5 linked regions of the Homo sapiens genome follow. The protein of the gene in region 3 purifies or fractionates together with the protein of the main gene of each other region. This does not show direct contact. Each region holds a gene or a part of one and is shown on either strand. Other genes may lie near its edges. The genes, in order: SARNP, ATPAF1, MRRF, IBA57 and MMAB.

Region 1 (3,520 bases), on a different chromosome or scaffold from region 3:
TTTTTCCTATCTATACATGCACTCTTACATGACTAAAATGGGAACGTACTGTTAATATAATTTTGTAACTTTTTTCATTAATATCTCTGATAAATATCTTTCAATATTATTTCAGCACAGTAGTCTGCTATACCATGGCACACATTTAATAACTAATTCTCTGTTGTACAGTTGGTTGTTTCCAGTTATTGATCACTATAAATAATGCTGTGATAATCCCTGAGGCTAAGTCTTTATGCACATTCAAGACTATTTCCTTATACGTTCCTAGAAGTAAAACTGTTAAGGTAGAAGATATTCTTTTCCCTTTTATCACTTATAATAGCCAGTATAACACTAGATAGTATGCAATAATTTTATGCAGTTGAGACCCCAGAATAAGTAAGCAAAGTACTAGAGAAACTTCTTTGAAGATGTTCAAGAAAAGACAGACAAATGTTGGCACTTCCTATCCTCTCATAACATTCAGTATCTCTCTTAATTGCCCAGGAAGGCCTAAGTATAATTTTACCTAAAGCAGGAGATGAATGTTACAATCTCTTAAAGAGTTTCTACAGCTAGCAAATTTACCTTATTTTGGAGAAATAAAACCTGTTATACCAGAAAAGAAAGAATAAAAAGGTAACTTTCTCAGAAGTATCTCTGTACTCTTACCTTTTGTTGGAACTGAAGAAATCCCAAACCTGAAGAAGGAAAAACAAACTAAATTTTAGGAAGCTGTTCACACTCCTGGTTTGTCTGTCTCCGTGTCAAGTATACATATGACACTTCTTGCTTGTGATCTCAAGCCTTGCAATCATTAGCTAATTCTAACAACCCCATGAAAGAGGTTCAGAAATTAAGCTAAAAGGAAGCCTTATCAGAATTAGTAGTAGTCAGTTCCTGGCTTTAACTGTTACAAAAACCCTTCTCAATAAAGCTCAATTTATAGCTACTATAACCAAATCAGTAGACATGTTCTGAATAGGGTCAAAAAAGTGTTCATATCCTTCAGCAAGCCTCTATTCTACTTAAAATCAACAATTATACCTAAAAGCTAGGATCACACATCTTCATCTTTACAACACCCCTATCAGAGGCCCAAAAGGCTGGGGACACTCACCTAGCTGCCCGAGCAGCTTTCTTACTCTCCAAGCTCACAGGTACATTGAATCGTTCAGCCCTCTTCTGCATTCTCTAAGTAAAAATAGACAAAAGGGAGAAAAAAAAGTCAATTTATGGTTTAAGAAAGTCAGTCAGAGGTAGGTATCTTTAAAAAAAAAAAAAAAAAAAAAAAAAAGAGTCTCACTCTGTCCCCCAGCCTGGAGTGCAGTGGCATGATCTCGGCTCACTGCAACCTCAGCCTCCTGGGTTCGAGCGATTCTCGTGGCTCAGCCTCCTGAGTAGCTGGGATTACAGGACTGTGCCACTGTGCCCAGCTAATTTTTGTGCTTTTAGTAGAAATGAGATTTCACCATGATGGCCAGGCTGATATTGAACTCCTGGCCTCAAGTGAACTGCCCACCTCAGCCTCCTAAACTGCTGGGATTACAAGCGTGAGCCACCTGGCCCAGCCAAAGGTAGGTATCTTAAAAACATCAGAAGTAATTTCTTAGGGTCTAAACTGAAAATACTGACAATCCTAGAAGATATCAGGTTGTGTCCATGCTAGGACTTAACGGCCCTTCCCACAAAGCAAACAAAAAAAGACTATTACTAGATGCCCTCAAAAACAAAAGGGAGAAATAAAGTAAAACCTACATTATGCATGAAGCCAAGAAGTCAAAAGCTATGTTTGGCTGACCTTTGAAAAGTGATCAAAGGAATAGCTTGGTTCCAACACCAATGGTATTCTTTCAGTTAGAAATGAGGCAGCATTGTTTTATGCCATTCTAAAAGAGTTTAATAATTCTCTACTTTGCAAGTATGATACTGAACACAAGATCTCAAATGGAACCTGGTTTCACAGTCCTGCACCACAGAAACCAGAGAAATTTCAATCTCAGCTACTGGCCAGTAGCAACATAAGAGTCACATCTACCAATACATTTTCAAGGTACAATCCTCCTAAATCTAATCCTAGGTTTGAAAACATCTCAAAGAGAGTCACTGTTAAGACCATAATATTACATATAAAAAGACTACAACTTCAAGAATGACTACCCCTACGCCAGCCAAATATTTTCCAAAGAGTAGCTGGCAGTGAAACGTATCAACACCAAAATCTGCCAATACTGATTTTCTGCCTGTGAATAAATTTTAGAGGATGATGCAGATATAATAAAGGGTAAGAGGGAGAGAGAAATGTAGAGACTGTTCTACTAGGGAGCAGAATACCTACCTCAGTCTGTGGTATTTCAGATGTAATTTTCACCACTTTCTTCTCTGCTGCCCTAGAAAAGAAAGAGATTTTTTAAAATGAGAAAACTGATATTCTAAACCACAACCTCAGAAATGTGTAAGAATTCACCTGAGTCACCATTCTCTGCCCTATTATCTCTCTGCCACCCCCTAAGCCAAAGAAACATGAAGTCCACTAGAGCTTTGGTTCCTTTAACTGTCATCTATTGAGAGGAAAGAGTTCAAATAACAAACTAAGCTTCTTTAGCTAAAGTATAATAAAGAAATAAGGAAAGAAGTCTGGTTAAATATACTGGGCTGAAGGGAAACACTCAAAGGACACCAGAAACCATCTCATTTGCTTTTAGGAACTTTTCAATTTACTTTTATTTTTCTGAGACGGAGTTTTGCTCTTGTCGCCCAGGCTGGAGTGCAATGGCACGATCTCAGCTCACTGCAACCTCCACCTCCTGGGTTCAAGAGATTCTCCTGCCTCAACCTCCTGAGTAGCTGGAATTACAGGCACCTGCCACCACGCCGAGCTAATTTTTGTATTTTTAGTAGAGATAGGGTTTCACCATGTTGGCCAGGCTAGTCACGAACTCCTGGCCTCAAGTGATCCACCCACCTCGGCCTCCCAAAGTACTGGGATTACAGGCATCAGCCACCGAGCCCAGCCTTTAATTTACTTTTGAACTAATGAGTAACCCTCCAATCCTCCTTTAAGTACCACCTCCCAATGTTCATCACAACAATTAATAAGTACTCTACAAGGTCTGGTTTCCTTCTTTTAAAAATCCCTTATTTCTCCCATGGGGAATGTAGCTCTAGCTGGAACAGTCAAAGTGAAACAAATAAAAATGCCAAAGAAGGTAGGAAGAAAAAAGTCTAAGGGGAGTTTGAATTAGGAAAACATGGTAAGCTAGTGGTCAAAGGTTTAAGAGGAAACAAAAGAGGGGGGACCACAGGGGCGGGAGACAAAGTTCGGAAGTACCCACGATAAATGGAAGGGCATTAACCCTCCACCAAACAACTCCCATAAAACTGTGGGTCATAACCAGTCTCATTAAGGTCCCTCATTTAGAGACATGGGCAGCTTTTGTTCCAATATCCTGAACACTTTTCCCATTTGATGCCCTGAAAGGTAGTAATGGTTTAATGACATTTTCAGAGGAAGCAATTCTGGAATAAGAACTTACTC
Region 2 (2,584 bases), on a different chromosome or scaffold from region 3:
GGCATTCCAAACAATTTTTCAGTCCCAAGATGAGTTTTGATAAAATCAGCCCATAGCCCTGACACAATGGACAGTACATAACTCAGATTTCATTATTTTGTATAACAAACATTGTAAGCCAGACTTAAAAAAAAAATTATTGCTATATTTTCCCCACATCCAATCTGGGAACATTTGCTTTCATCCACTTTTTCGTATCATGTTTAGAGTTGTTTTTAAAAAAATCATGCAAACCAGGATTAATCTTCTCCTTACAAAAGAATTTTATTTATACTGCACTGATTCATTCCTTCAAACACATAGCTTCTAACAGGTGGAGTTAGAAAAGCGGGTGCCACAAACTATGGTTTAATAGTATGCAGGCCCTGTACCTGTTTATCTAACTATACCTGAAATTTGCTGATACCCCAAGCCAGCTACTTACACTAAAGGCATCTCTGGGGGGCATCATCTAGATGAAGTCTTTAACCTGATGGGAATATCTGGTTATTCTACAGTTTAAACAGGATGTTTGGCTTATGCTTTTGTTCAGCTGACTGGTGCCTGGGAAGGATTAAAGCCCATATCTAACTACAGCAGGTCTTCAAGCTTATTATCCTGTCATGAGTTCATAAAGATGACAAACTCATCATTTGGGAGCTATAAGGTCAAAGTGGCCAGAATGCAACTGCGCTGTTACACTGTGCAAAATCAAGTCAACTGTCTTGTAGGTCCTTGGCTGTCTCTTGTTATAACCTCGAACACTTAAAAAAGGAAACCTCAAGTATGCTGAGATAATTATCAGAATGTTCAGGTACCTTTGTTCCTGAATATCAAGTAATAGGGCTCATCTCTGTGACTGCTTGCGACAAGCACATAGGGCAACTCATTACCAACTGCTCATTATAAATGCTGAGCTCTTGAGTTCCTGAGGAGGGGGTGGGCTCTAGACTATCGAGGGCTGAGTCAACTAGGTGAAGGGCCAACCTGTACAGTTCTAAGTCTTATTTTGGTTCTGGGCACATTTCAGTTCTGCTCCAAGTCCGCTTTGCTCCAATTCAGCGATGACAGACATATATTTGAACTCATTTGGTCTGAGGTTAAAGGTCTCCACTAACCCGTAGGTCTCTTTCCGATCAGTAGCGTAGAAGAGCTGAACTTGGTTGGCGATGCACTGTGCCTCAGCAACATTCTGTAAGGTAAAAAGAATAATGAGGTCCTTTCTTGCACAGGGCCACAAAGCTCTTGTCTGAATTGTGTGGTGGGTGGGGGCCCTCGCCCAGGAGTCACCACTTCCAGAAAGTTTCCTTAACTTCTTGAAGTCCCTAGTCTTGGTTAGGTGCCCCTTCTCTGTGTACCAAATCATCCTGTGCTTACCACTGTCATAGTATTTATCACACTGTATTGTATTTTTCCTTTTCTTTTTTTGTCTATTTTCCCTAGTACAAATTCCTCAAAGACATAGACCGTGGTTTGTTTTATATCTCTGCAGAGTGACATCTGGTGAATGTTTACTGAATAAATTAATGTACATGTTCACATTATTCCTCTTCATCCAGTTCCCTAATAACTGTTAAATATATTTCAAGGGGGGAATAAGACAGCAACAGTTACCCAGCTCTAAGAACCAGTTTGTGAGTGAGAACTAAGTTCTTGACTAACCAGATATACACTTGAATAAAACCTGTTATGATACTACCTTGGTCAGAAAAGTACTCCCAGAGCCAGCTGTGATGGTTTTAAAATTTGCCCACAAATTTTAAGATATTCCTCCCTTTGATGGAGCCTAATTTCCCTTTCCTTGGGTAATGGCTATACTCAGTGACTTCCTTCTAACAAGTAGACTATGACAAAATGGTTGGGGGCATTGGTGTGAGCCTGTAGTCCCAGCTACTCAGGAGGCTGAGGTAGGAGGATTGCTTGAGCCTGTCTGGGTAATGTAGTGAGCCCCTTAAAAAAAAAAAAAGACTATGAAAAAATGAAAAATGATGGAGAATGAGTTCTGCTATCAAGCCATAAAGGTTGTAACTTTTCTCTTGCTAATTTTCTTGCTCTGGGAAAAGTCAGTTGCCATGTAGTGAGGACATTCATGCAGCCCTATGGAGAAACACGACAAAGACATGAGGCCTCTGCCAAGAGCCATGTGAGTGGGGCTGGATGCAGACGCTCAAGCCCAATCAACCTTCGGATGACTATACCCCTAGATAACATCTTGACAGCAACCTTGTGAGACCCTGAGCCAGAACCACTCAGCTAAGCTGCTACTACAGAAACTGCGAGGTAATAAATGTTTGTTGTTTTAAGCCACTAGATTTTGTATAATTTGTTATGCAGCCATTTATAACTAATACATCAGCAAAGGCCCAGGGAAGAGAAGGGCAGTAGCAGAGAAATGGTGAGCAATAGCAGAGAAATGGTGAGCAGGCCACCCTACATGACAGAGGCAGAGAAATTAGCCAGATGTGGTGGCATGAGCCTGTAGTCCTAGCTACTCGGGAGGCTGAGACAGGAGGATTGCTTGAGACCAGGAGTTTGAGGCTGCACTGAGCTATGGTCATGCCAGCACACTCCAGCCTGGGTAACAGAGGAAGACTCTATCTCTAAA
Region 3 (3,520 bases):
GCTAATAGAGAAACAGGTACTATTGCCAGCAATGTAGTAGTGTCTGTGTATTCAGCATAAGGAATCATTTGTTCATGTTTGAGGTGAGGACAGTTAAAACAGAATACCTCTGATCTTTCATTCACATTATCACCATTGTCTGAGTCTCTGTTCTGGGCCTAGCCTAATGCCAGATTCAGAGGGATCCATAGAGGAGGATAAGACACTTGTATTGTGTACCAGGTTTTGTGCTGAACACTTTATATTACTTCATTTACCCTCATCACTACAAAACTATGAGGTAGGTAGTAAGGAAACTGAGATTCAGGCAAGTTAAATAACTTGCCCGAAATCACACTGCTGGAAATTGGTAGAAATCGGATCCATACTTAGGCAGACGGATTTCAGAGCCTCTACGCTAATGCTCTCCTGTCTGGTTTTCCGGTTGCTGAGAATTGAGCACTTAGTGTTCTCAGTGTGCTGAGTAGTGGCACTTGAATAAGTCTTAAGCTGCTGGAGTAAAATAGTGAGAGACAAGGGGGAAAAGTGTAACCATATGTACAAAGGTAAGGTGATATAAAAACAATATTCAGTTAAGATCATTGGGGTTTGAACGTAGGATAAGACTAGGGAATGAATAAAGAAAACAGAGTGGCTAGATAATAGAAGGAAGGTCTCGTACACCAGGTTTAGGAGTTTGAACGTTAACATGTACAGACTGTCCCACATTGGCTGTGCATCTATATTAGTCATGTATGGCCACAATAATGGTACATAACTACCCCAAAACTCAGTGATCGACAATATCAAAGCATTATTTCTTGTTCTCATTTCCATGGGCCAGCTGGGGTGTAGCTATTCTAGGCTGGGCTCAGTGGGCTTGGCTCCAGATCTTGGATTGGGTTCAAATCTGCTTTATATCTCTCAATCTTCCAAAGCCAACAGGTTTCCTAGGGCCTCTTTTCATGGTAACAGCAGATGCCAAGATCATAAGCCCAACCACTCAAGTACATTTTAAACACCTGCTCTTGTCACATTTGATTGGCCAAAGCAAGTCACATGGGCCAAGCTCAATATGTTTGGTACAAGGAAATATATATATTTATGGAGGTCTGGGGAAAGAAGTGAATATTTGCTGAACAGCATCTCTCTACCAAAGTACCTTAATCACTTGGGTAGCTTATAAAAATCCAGGTATCTGGGGCCCCATTTCCAGAGATTGAGTCAATGAATCTGGGACAGAGCCAGGAATCTGTATTTTAAATCCTTCTCAGGTGATTCTCATACAGTGACACACTTAAAAGATTTTTTTTAGATGATGGAGAGAGCACATCTATGTTTATGAAAGATGACTATGGTGGCCAGGTAGAAAACAGATTGTAGGGGGCAAGACTGGAGGCAGGGCGATAGGGATGCTGCTGCAGAAATCCAGCCAGGAAGTGATGGTGGCCTGAACCTGAGTGGCACCTGTGGAAAGATGTGGAGATAGAATTAGTAATGTTCAATGTAATATAAAGGGTTTGATAGGCCTTAAAGCCTCCTCATCCACAATAAAGCATTGTTTTAGGGAGATTGAACAGGCATGTGGGCTGGATAGGGAGTGAAGAGAGAAGCGAGAAGCAAGGGACCCCTGGAGAAGTCCATAAGTTGACTAGCTGCTCCCCTTCTCCTCCACCAGCAGTTAAAATGCTAGTTTTACTAGCATTTTACTAGTAGGACAGCCACAACAGTCACCTGGGGGGGGGAATTTTAGGTGGCTTCCTGGGCCCTACTCCTGCATTTTCTGATACAGTAGCTCTGCCTAGGAATGTATATTTTTATTTTACTTACTTTTATTAATTCATTTTTCTTGAGATGGGGTCTCACTATGTTGCCCAGGCTGGTCTTGGGCTCCTGGGCTCAAGCAGTCCTCCTGTAGCTGGGATAACAGATGCGTCCAGCTGGAATGTATAGTTTTAAAAAGCTCTCAGGTAATTGTGTAAAAGCACACATAGAAGATAATGACCTAGAAGCCTGGTAATGTACCTGTGTAATGACACTAGAGTTAGAAAAAGATTGTTCTGCACTTGATGTCCTATGACCTTGGGGAAGTTGCTTGACTCTTTGGAGTCTGTTTTCTGTAAAAAGGGATTGGTAATTTCTGCCTTGAATGGTTTCCTTGGTATGCTAGAAAGCACCATTAGTGTACCTAACACCCAAACCCTCAAAACTCCCCTCTTGCCATCTCTCTGCCCTCCTCCTTCCCTGTATCAGCTAAAAGAAGAGGTTCAGAGATTAGGCGGGCCTTTCCTGTGCACTGACCAGGCCTCATTAATAGTCTGGGCCCTGGCTCCAGCTGGGCCGGCTCCTTGTCTTTCTCCTAGGGGATTTCTTCACTGCTTTCCCTTGTCATTGCTTCTTGGTGGTAAGCCTATGGACCTTCAGGGCCTGCCAGGCACTAGTCACTCAGCAAGCCAGGACATCTGCCTCAGGGACCAGAGCCCACAACTCCTGAAAGAGGAAGAATGATCAGATAGCAAGCATTCTTGATAAAACCCTCTTGACAAAGACCTTGCTGGAAGCCTTCACTCATTAGCACTGGCTTTTCGCCATCCTCTTCAGATTAAATTTTTTTTCTTTAGTGCTTCTTACTGTGATTTTTTTAAGTGAAAATAGCTGTATTCGTTTTGCTGTTAAAACAAGGAAGAAAGTAATTGAAATCTCATCACTCAGATGACTGTTGTTAACATTTTAGTGTAGAACTTCAAGTTATCTCTCGAAACAAGAAAAAGTATCATACAATTTATATGATACGATATATCACAGATATCTTTCTAAACATATTATTATTTAAATGTTTATTTTTATTTATTTTTTATTTTTGTCACCCAGGCTGGAGTGCAGTGGTGCAATCTTGGCTCACTGCAACCTCTACCTCCTGGGTTCAAGCGATTCTCCTGCCTCAGACTCCCGAGTAGCTGGGATTACAGGCACGTGCCACCATGCCCTGCTAATTTTTTTATTTTTAGTAGAGATGAGGTTTCACCATGTTTGCCAGGCTGGTCTTGAACTCCTGACCTCAGATGATCCGCCCACCTCAGCCCCCCAAAGTGCTGGGATTACAGGCATGAGTGCCCAGCTAAATGTTTATTCTTAACCAGGATTGTTAATAACTTAATTTACTGTCATAGAGTTAAAAGTTTGGAACAGTAGAGAGCCTTATATATACTTCATGGTGTTCTTTCTACTGTCAGAAGGCCCCAGACTGGAATTTTTGGTGTGTGTGTGTGTGTACGTGTGCGTGCATGTTTTAAAGATATAAAACAAGGTTATGGCTGATTGTCGCTTCATCAGACAGTTTTAAAATTTTGTTTACTTTTGTTCCTTATTATCAAAGTAATATATGTTCATTGGAGAAAGTTCATCCTCCCCTCCCACATTGGAGAGGCAACCGCTCTTAACATTTTGGAATATTTCTTTTTTCCTTTTTTCTAAAAAAAAAAAAAACTACATAGTTTTAAACATGATTGAGAACATATAGTATATATACAATTTTGTATTC
Region 4 (3,520 bases), on a different chromosome or scaffold from region 3:
ACGTCACAGGCCAGGGAGCTCCACTCTGAGGGGTCAGGTGGGGCGGGACCATCCTCCGTGGGATTCAGCATCTGTGTAATAATACTTGAAACCCTCTAGCTTCAGTTCTGTTGGAGTTCATGGCCCTGTTTCTCCTCAGCCGTCAGAAGAGGGACACAACAAGGTTACCTCCTTGAGTGTCTCCCCAGGGGTGGTGGGTGACAGGTGTCCAGATGCCACCCCTCCCAGCTATGTGGCATGGGTGGGCTTAGGGCTGCGCTCGTTGGGCACGTTTAGTTCAGTTCATGAGAGTGTAAACTCTTTTCCTTGTCGGGCTGCTGTTGGCTGTTGACCTCCCTCTCTGTGGTTTGCCCCCTCTGGTCACTCCTCTGGGGAGAGGGCAGCCTGCAGGTCAGGGACCACCTCTCCCTGGAAGCCTCTGTGTGTTCCTGCTTCTCTGGTCATTCCCTGCCCATCATTCCTTTATGGTTTTTTCCTGACTGTAGGATTTTTTATTTCAACTTTGATACTTAATATATCATCCTGAGCCATCGCTTCCTTAAAGCACCCTATTCTTGTTTCCTGAATGTAGCACCTTCTTTCAGATGAAACTATAGTTATTTGGTTGTTGTCTTTTAATAGGAGTTGCTTTTTAGAGCAGTTTTAGGTTCTCAGCAAAAGAGCAGAATGTGCAGAGATTTCCCATATTACCTCACAACTTCCCCCACCAGAGTGCTATTTTCGTCACAACTGATGAACCTCTGTTGACATGCCATCATCACTTGGAGTACAGTTTCCATGAGGGCTCACTCTTGGCTTGGTGTGTTCATGAGTTAGGCAAATGTATGATGACACATGTCTACCATCGTAGCATCACATACAGTAGTGTCACTGCCTTGAAATCCTCTGTGCCCTGCCCATCCATCCATCTCCCCTAACTCCTGGCCACCACTGATGTTTTCAGTGTCTCCATAGTTTCATGCTTTCCAGAATGTCCTGTAGTTGGACTCATGCATCTGTAGCCTCTTCACATTGGCGTTCTTCACTTAGTGATATGCGTTTAGATTCCTCCATGTTTTTTCATAGCTTGACAGCTAATTTCTTTTTTTTTTAGACAGAGTCTTGCTCTGTCCCCCAGGCTGTAGTGCAATGGCGCAATCTCGGCTCACTGCAACCTCTGCCTCCCAGGTTCAAGCGATTCTCCTGCCTCAGCCTCCTGAGTAGCTGGGATTACAGGCATGCACCACCACGCCCAGCTAATTTTTGTATCTTTTTTTAGTAGAGACGGGGTTTCACCATGTTGGTCAGGCTGGTCTCGAACTACTGACCTCATGATCCGCCCGCCTCGGCCTCCCAAAGTGCTGGGATTACAGGCGTGAGCCACGGCGCCCGGCCGACAGCTAATTTCTTTTAGTACTGGTTAGTATTCCATTGGATGGACCACAGTTTATTTGTCCACTCATCTACTGAGGGACATATTGGTTGCTTCCAAGTTTTGGCAATTATGGATAAAGCTGCTGTAAACATCCATGTGCAGATTTTCATATGGGTCTGAGTTTTTTTGTTTTTATTTTTTAGACACAGGGTCTCGCTCCATTGCCCAGGCTGGAGTGCAGTGGCACAGTTGTAGCTCACTGTACCTTCAAACTCCTGGGCTCAAGTGATCCTCCCACCTCAGCCTCCCAAGTAGCCAGGACTACAGGTAGTTGAGGTCTCACTATGTTGCTCGGGCTGGTCTTGAACTCCTGGGCTCAGGCGATTCTCCTGCCTCAGCTTCACAAAGTGTTGGGATTGCGGGCATGAGCCACCATGCCTGGCCTCCTTAGGGTCCCTTTCTATCAGTTGGTTTTGATCTCTCTTCATGTAGGAGGCAGAGAGAGGCTGTAGGGTCATGTTGCAGGTAGGATTGTGGTCCAGTGGCCTTGCTGCGAGCTGGCCGGGGCAAGGATGTGGACTCAGTGCAGGGCTCAGCAGGCCCAAGAGTGTCAGGGCTGTGGCCTTGTGTCTGGCCAGCACTGAGGAGCAGGAGAGACTTGTCAGGCCTCTGGTGGCCTGGGGAGGAGGGAGGAGAGAGAAGGGAAGGAGTCAGGCCGGGTCCCAGAGCAGTGTTTTCCTGAACATGACTGGAAACCCTTGGATCTGATGGCCAGGGGACCCTTTCTTTCAGTTGGCTGGGCCAGAGCCACCCCTGACCTCCCTCCTCTTCCTGCACCCTTGCTCCCACCGGGGCTTCTGGGCTCAGCAAACAAAAGCACAGGACACCCAGGTCCGTCTCAGACGAGCAACGGATGATCTGTAGGTGCATCCTATGCGGTATTTGGGATATACTAAAAAAAGTAATTTGTTGTCGATGTGAAATTCTGATTTAACCAGGTACCCTATATTTTCTTTGGCAACCCTGTCCCCTGCGCCCCTCAGCGGTATCTGGAAATATTTTTGGTTGTCATGATGGGGTGGGGTACAGGCCAGGGGTGCTGCTTAGCATCTGGACAGCCCCCACTATGGAGAATGATGAGGCTGAGAAAGCTCCCCAGGCCGGGGCTCTCCTGTGAGGCAAGTCTCCTGGCAGTCTTCAGGTGTGGCAGGGGTTGGGGTGGGCCCGGGGGTCATGTCCCAGCTCAGCTGGTCCTGAGAAGCTGCCTGGTAGACAGTCACCGGCACAGAGAGCTGGAAAGTGCCCTCGACCCCAGAACCTGGGTCCTGTGAGGACATCCACCCTGTGTGAGGCCAGGGAGTGCTCAGCAGATGGGGGCAGCAGGGGGTGTCAGCATGGGTGGGGGTTCCTGCCAAGGCAGGCAGCTGAGCTGGCCCCACCTCAGAGTGCAGGGGCCCTCAGCTTGATCTTTTCTGGGCTCCACTCTTGACTGATGGACCCATGGGGCACCCTGGCCCCACCCTGCCTGCCTTGCCCCAGCTCCTGCCCTTGCCCTGTAGGGCTCTGCGGCCTCCCCTGTGCCTGTGTGCCTGGCTCACTAGACCCTGGACCTGTGGTCCCTCAGCTCCACTCTAGTCCCCTTACTCTGTCCCTCTACTGCCTGGCGTCGCTCAGCTCCTCCCTGCCTGTCCGGCGCCCAGCATCCTGTGCCCATGACCTCACATCTGTCCCTCTGCCCGGGTCCCCCACTCACCTGTGTTTTGGTCCATCTTTGTCTGCTGACCCCACTATAGATTTTAAAAATACAAATATGCATGCACGTGGTTAAAAACTCGCTGATGTCAGATGGCTGGGATGAAAGGACTGCCTGCTGCCTTTCCTCTTGTAGTGCTCGGACACCTCTGCAGGCGAAGCTCCTTGTTTTTTTTTTTTGTTGTTGTTGTTGTTGTTTTTTCACTTCTTATTTTGAAATAATTATAGATTCACAGGAAGTTGCAAAAAAAAAAACAAAACAAAACCCGTGGGAGAGATCGCACGGACCCCTCCCCAGTTCCCCTGATTGCACACACAGGGCATATCTGGGGTCTCTGGATTTGTGTGTCTTACTTTGTGCGTCTGTGCACGCATGTGTATAACTGCAGTTTTATCACGTGTGAATATCTGTGG
Region 5 (3,520 bases), on a different chromosome or scaffold from region 3:
CACCCAGCCTTGGCACTGTGAGGGCGGGGACAGTGTCTGGTTCACCTGGGAGCCCCGCCTGGCCTGGTAGCCGCTCGCAGGGCCTGTGGATGAGGCCGGGCAGCAATGCCACTGCTTTCCTCATATCACCCATTTCACCCTCACAGACACCCGTGAGGTGGAAGTTAATGTCCACAGCTTATAGGGAGCCAAACTGAGCCTCAGAAAGGCTGACTTGCCCAGCCCCCACAGCCAGGCATCAGTAGAGCTGGAATCTGATTCCCAAACTGGTGCCATTTCTCCCCAGCCCTTGGGGTACACGCTGCACGTGGCCAACCAAGTGGGTAGTATTATCACTCCCGCTTTGACTGTGAAAGTGCAGAGACCCCAAGCAGGGAAGCAGCTTGCCCAAGGTCTGCTGGTCAGAAGCCCTGGGAAGGTTCCAGCCCAGTGCTGGATGGGCAGCCTCTGCTCTCACACACCATGGCCTGCTTCTTGAATGCTGTCACAGTGGCCATCTTAGGAGAGGTCAGAAGTCGCAGACCTTCACCCTCCTGGTAGCCCACCATCCAGCTTGAGTGGACCCTGGCTGGGCACAAAGTCAGAGGTGGTACTTGTGGTCTTCACATGCATGAGAGCTGTTGGACATTTGTCATGCAGGGGCCTGGAGTCCTGCAGCAGACCTTAACAGACCACTTCTGTTCCAAGCAAACCCACTCCCCACCTGGACAGAGCACAGGCCTCACCCAGCCAGGCTTCCTGCTCCCAGAATCCCCACACGCCTCGGCTGACTACATTCTCCAAGCTCCTTGTCCTTTAGAGTTTAGAAAGCACTGTCACATTTGACCTCTTGGCCCAACTGTTACAGGTTAGAAAACCAAAGCTGTCAAATGTTGAGAAAAGAAGAAAACCTCACAGGGCCTAGGTGCACAGGAGACGTGGACAGAGCCCAGACGGTTCCTCTTGACTGTCCCTGGGTGTGTGATGCGTGTCATCTGCTTAACCCAGCTGCTGCCCCCATGGGAGCCTTTTCCTCCCTCAGACTGCAAAAGAGCCACACCAGGTCCCCCTCAGCAGGGCTGGGTGTCCAACGAAGATGTTGTGCTGAAAGTTCAGAGTTTGCTTTCAAATGTCAGCCAGTTCAAGGTCTGATAGCCTGTATTAGTCTGTTCTCGCACTGCTATAAAGAACTACCTGAGACCGGATAATTTATAAAGAAAAGAAGTTTAATCTGCACATGGTTTTGTGGGCTGTACAGGCTTCTGCTTCTGGGGAGGCCTCAGGAAACCTACAGTCATGGCGGAAGGCAAAGGGGAAGCAGGTACATCTTCACATGGCTGATAGGAGAGAGAGAGTGTGAAGAGGGAGGTGCTACACACTTTCAAACAACCACATCTCATGAGAACTCTATCACAAGACAGCACTAGGGGGCTGGGGCTAAACCATTCAAAACTACCCCAATGATCCAATCACCTCCCACCAGGCCCCACCTCCAACTCTGGGGATCACAATTTAACATGAGATTTGGATGGGGACACATTGCCAAACCATATCACAGCCCTTCATGAGCTAGCTGGCACAGGCTTTGCCGGCGTATTAGGTGGCGCCTCTGCACATTGTCTCTGTCCAGCCCATCTCACATAGATCTTGACTGTCACTTTCTGTCGCCCCCCAGATCCAGTGCACATTGCAGGACGTCGGCTCGGCCCTGGCGACACCATGCTCCTCGGCCCGGGAGGCTCACTTAAGTAATTCTCAAACTCCTGTGGGTGTTCAGAGGGCCCTAGGGTCAGGGGACTCTCCTAGGGTCACCATCTGGGATCCCAGGCCCCCAGGGACCCACGGGTGGGTCAGTTAGCCTTGCTCGTAGCTCCTGGGAGGGAAGGTACCTTCTGAGCCAGTGGAAGCAGTCTGCGGGACACCCAGGTGGAAGGGCGGCGGGGGTGGTTCCCGCCATGGTCTGGTGGGTGATGGCCTCATGGCAGTTCCCTCTGCTCCTTGGCTCCTCAGAGTATACCACGTTCAAGGCGGGGCCCATCCTGGAGCTGGAGCAGTGGATCGACAAGTACACCAGCCAGCTCCCACCACTCACGGCCTTCATCCTGCCTGTAGGTACTGGGCAGGCTTAACCGGGGGCGGCTGCAGGCAGGTTCAGTGACAGACACACATGGGCTCTGAATAAATCCCTCTTTTCACAGTGACAGACGCTGTCCTCCAGTTCCCCAAGTCCCTCCAGGTCCTCACCGGTCCCTCCCAGCCCTGCCCACTCTGGAGCAGCGTGCCCGGTGGGTGTGCCGTGGCAGGGCTCCTGGAGGCAGAACACTGCCCGGTTTGGGGGGCAGGGCTGGACTTCAGAGGAGCTCCTGTCCGCAGTGGGCACACCTTTCCCACCCTGCTCAGGCAATGTCCCTTTCTCCTTTCAGTCGGGAGGCAAGATCAGCTCGGCGCTGCATTTCTGCCGGGCCGTGTGCCGCCGGGCCGAGAGACGGTAAGAGGGCTGGAGAGAGGGAGAGGGCCCAAGGGAGAGGGAGAGGAACAAGGGGGAGGGGGGAGGGAGAGGGAGAGGAGGACGGAGATGGGGAGAGGGAGAGGGGCCTCTGCACAGCGGGCAGGAGGCAGGTACAGCAGGGCCATCTCTGAGCCATCCAGCCACACATCAACAGACCTTGTCTGGGCCCCTCCACTGTGCCAGACGGGGACCAGGACAGACCAAGTCCCTGTCCTCAGAGCACCATGTTGTGAAGTGGAGACAGTGACATGTGACCAAATAGACTATCAGACAACACAATTGCACCTTGTTTGTGAGCCCTGTATTCTGAGAACAGCAGGAAGTTATTGCTGGGTTCTCAGCCTCAGCCATCTTGGGGACAGGGGTAGACATGAAAGGACCCTGCTGGCTGCTGGGTGCATAAGGCTCCTGAAAGGCCTGCATGGCTGTGGGGAGCCCAGGTGGACGTTGTCAGCAGACTAGCCACCACCTCCTCCAAAGCTACTGACAGCCTTTTCAAGGAATCTTTAGAAGAAAATGAGCAAAGTCTCTATCTACACCACTCAGAGACCAGGCTGCCAGCCAGCTTTACAGAGAAGAGAAAGCAAGCCCTACTTTGATCCAATGGACTGGCACTTTATGTTCATAATTTCATTTACTCCTTGTTGATAGCCCTGGGAGAGAGGTGGTGGTGGCCTCTGTTTTACAGGAGTCAGGAAGCTGTGGCTCAGAGAAATGACACCATGGTCACGGTCCCCCACATGGTTGATAGCAGAATCCAGATTGGAGTCCACGTCTGTCTGGGCCAAGCCTGAGCTCTTCCACGGTCCCACACCACTAAGGTTTTGTTCTTTATGAAAGGCTCTCGGGCCCAGATAGCTCCTTAGAGATCCCAGGTAACAGAACAAGCTTTGGCTTCAAAAGAAAAAACTGTCATTTGTACAAAGCCATCCATCAGCAGTGCTCATAATAGCAAGAAACTGGAAACAACCCAAAGGCCCCGAAAACAGGCATGGCGGAGCAGCTGATAGGTCCTCCATGCAGCAGAGAGTT

What was found.
Region 1: the proteins of MRRF (region 3) and SARNP fractionate together in Homo sapiens (co-fractionation; one large-scale study listed by BioGRID). This does not show direct contact.
Region 2: the proteins of MRRF (region 3) and ATPAF1 purify together in Homo sapiens (affinity purification with mass spectrometry; one large-scale study listed by BioGRID and IntAct). This does not show direct contact.
Region 4: the proteins of MRRF (region 3) and IBA57 purify together in Homo sapiens (affinity purification with mass spectrometry; 2 studies listed by BioGRID and IntAct, with this or other methods). This does not show direct contact.
Region 5: the proteins of MRRF (region 3) and MMAB purify together in Homo sapiens (affinity purification with mass spectrometry; 2 studies listed by BioGRID and IntAct, with this or other methods). This does not show direct contact.

The regions. Positions count from the first base shown.
Region 1 is NC_000012.12:55,793,705-55,797,224, forward strand, and holds part of SARNP (SAP domain-containing ribonucleoprotein), read right to left. Parts: intron 2,373-3,520; coding exon 2,321-2,372; intron 1,177-2,320; coding exon 1,103-1,176; intron 684-1,102; coding exon 655-683; intron 1-654. UniProt on the Homo sapiens protein: Binds both single-stranded and double-stranded DNA with higher affinity for the single-stranded form. Specifically binds to scaffold/matrix attachment region DNA. Also binds single-stranded RNA. Enhances RNA unwinding activity of DDX39A.
Region 2 is NC_000001.11:46,634,800-46,637,383, forward strand, and holds part of ATPAF1 (ATP synthase mitochondrial F1 complex assembly factor 1), read right to left. Parts: intron 1,172-2,584; coding exon 977-1,171; 3' UTR 1-976. UniProt on the Homo sapiens protein: Has a complex stabilizing activity in the assembly of the mitochondrial F1-F0 complex.
Region 3 is NC_000009.12:122,313,371-122,316,890, forward strand, and holds part of MRRF (ribosome-recycling factor, mitochondrial isoform 1 precursor), read left to right. Parts: coding exon 1-16; intron 17-3,520. UniProt on the Homo sapiens protein: Responsible for the disassembly of ribosomes from messenger RNA at the termination of mitochondrial protein biosynthesis. Acts in collaboration with GFM2. Promotes mitochondrial ribosome recycling by dissolution of intersubunit contacts.
Region 4 is NC_000001.11:228,168,795-228,172,314, forward strand, and holds part of IBA57 (iron-sulfur cluster assembly factor IBA57, mitochondrial isoform 1 precursor), read left to right. Parts: intron 1-3,520. UniProt on the Homo sapiens protein: Mitochondrial protein involved in the maturation of mitochondrial [4Fe-4S]-proteins in the late stage of the iron-sulfur cluster assembly pathway. Operates in cooperation with ISCA2 in the maturation of [4Fe-4S] proteins.
Region 5 is NC_000012.12:109,559,987-109,563,506, reverse strand, and holds part of MMAB (corrinoid adenosyltransferase MMAB precursor), read left to right. Parts: intron 1-1,654; coding exon 1,655-1,727; intron 1,728-1,989; coding exon 1,990-2,087; intron 2,088-2,177; coding exon of another isoform or gene 2,178-2,264; intron 2,265-2,402; coding exon 2,403-2,467; intron 2,468-3,520. UniProt on the Homo sapiens protein: Converts cob(I)alamin to adenosylcobalamin (adenosylcob(III)alamin), a coenzyme for methylmalonyl-CoA mutase, therefore participates in the final step of the vitamin B12 conversion.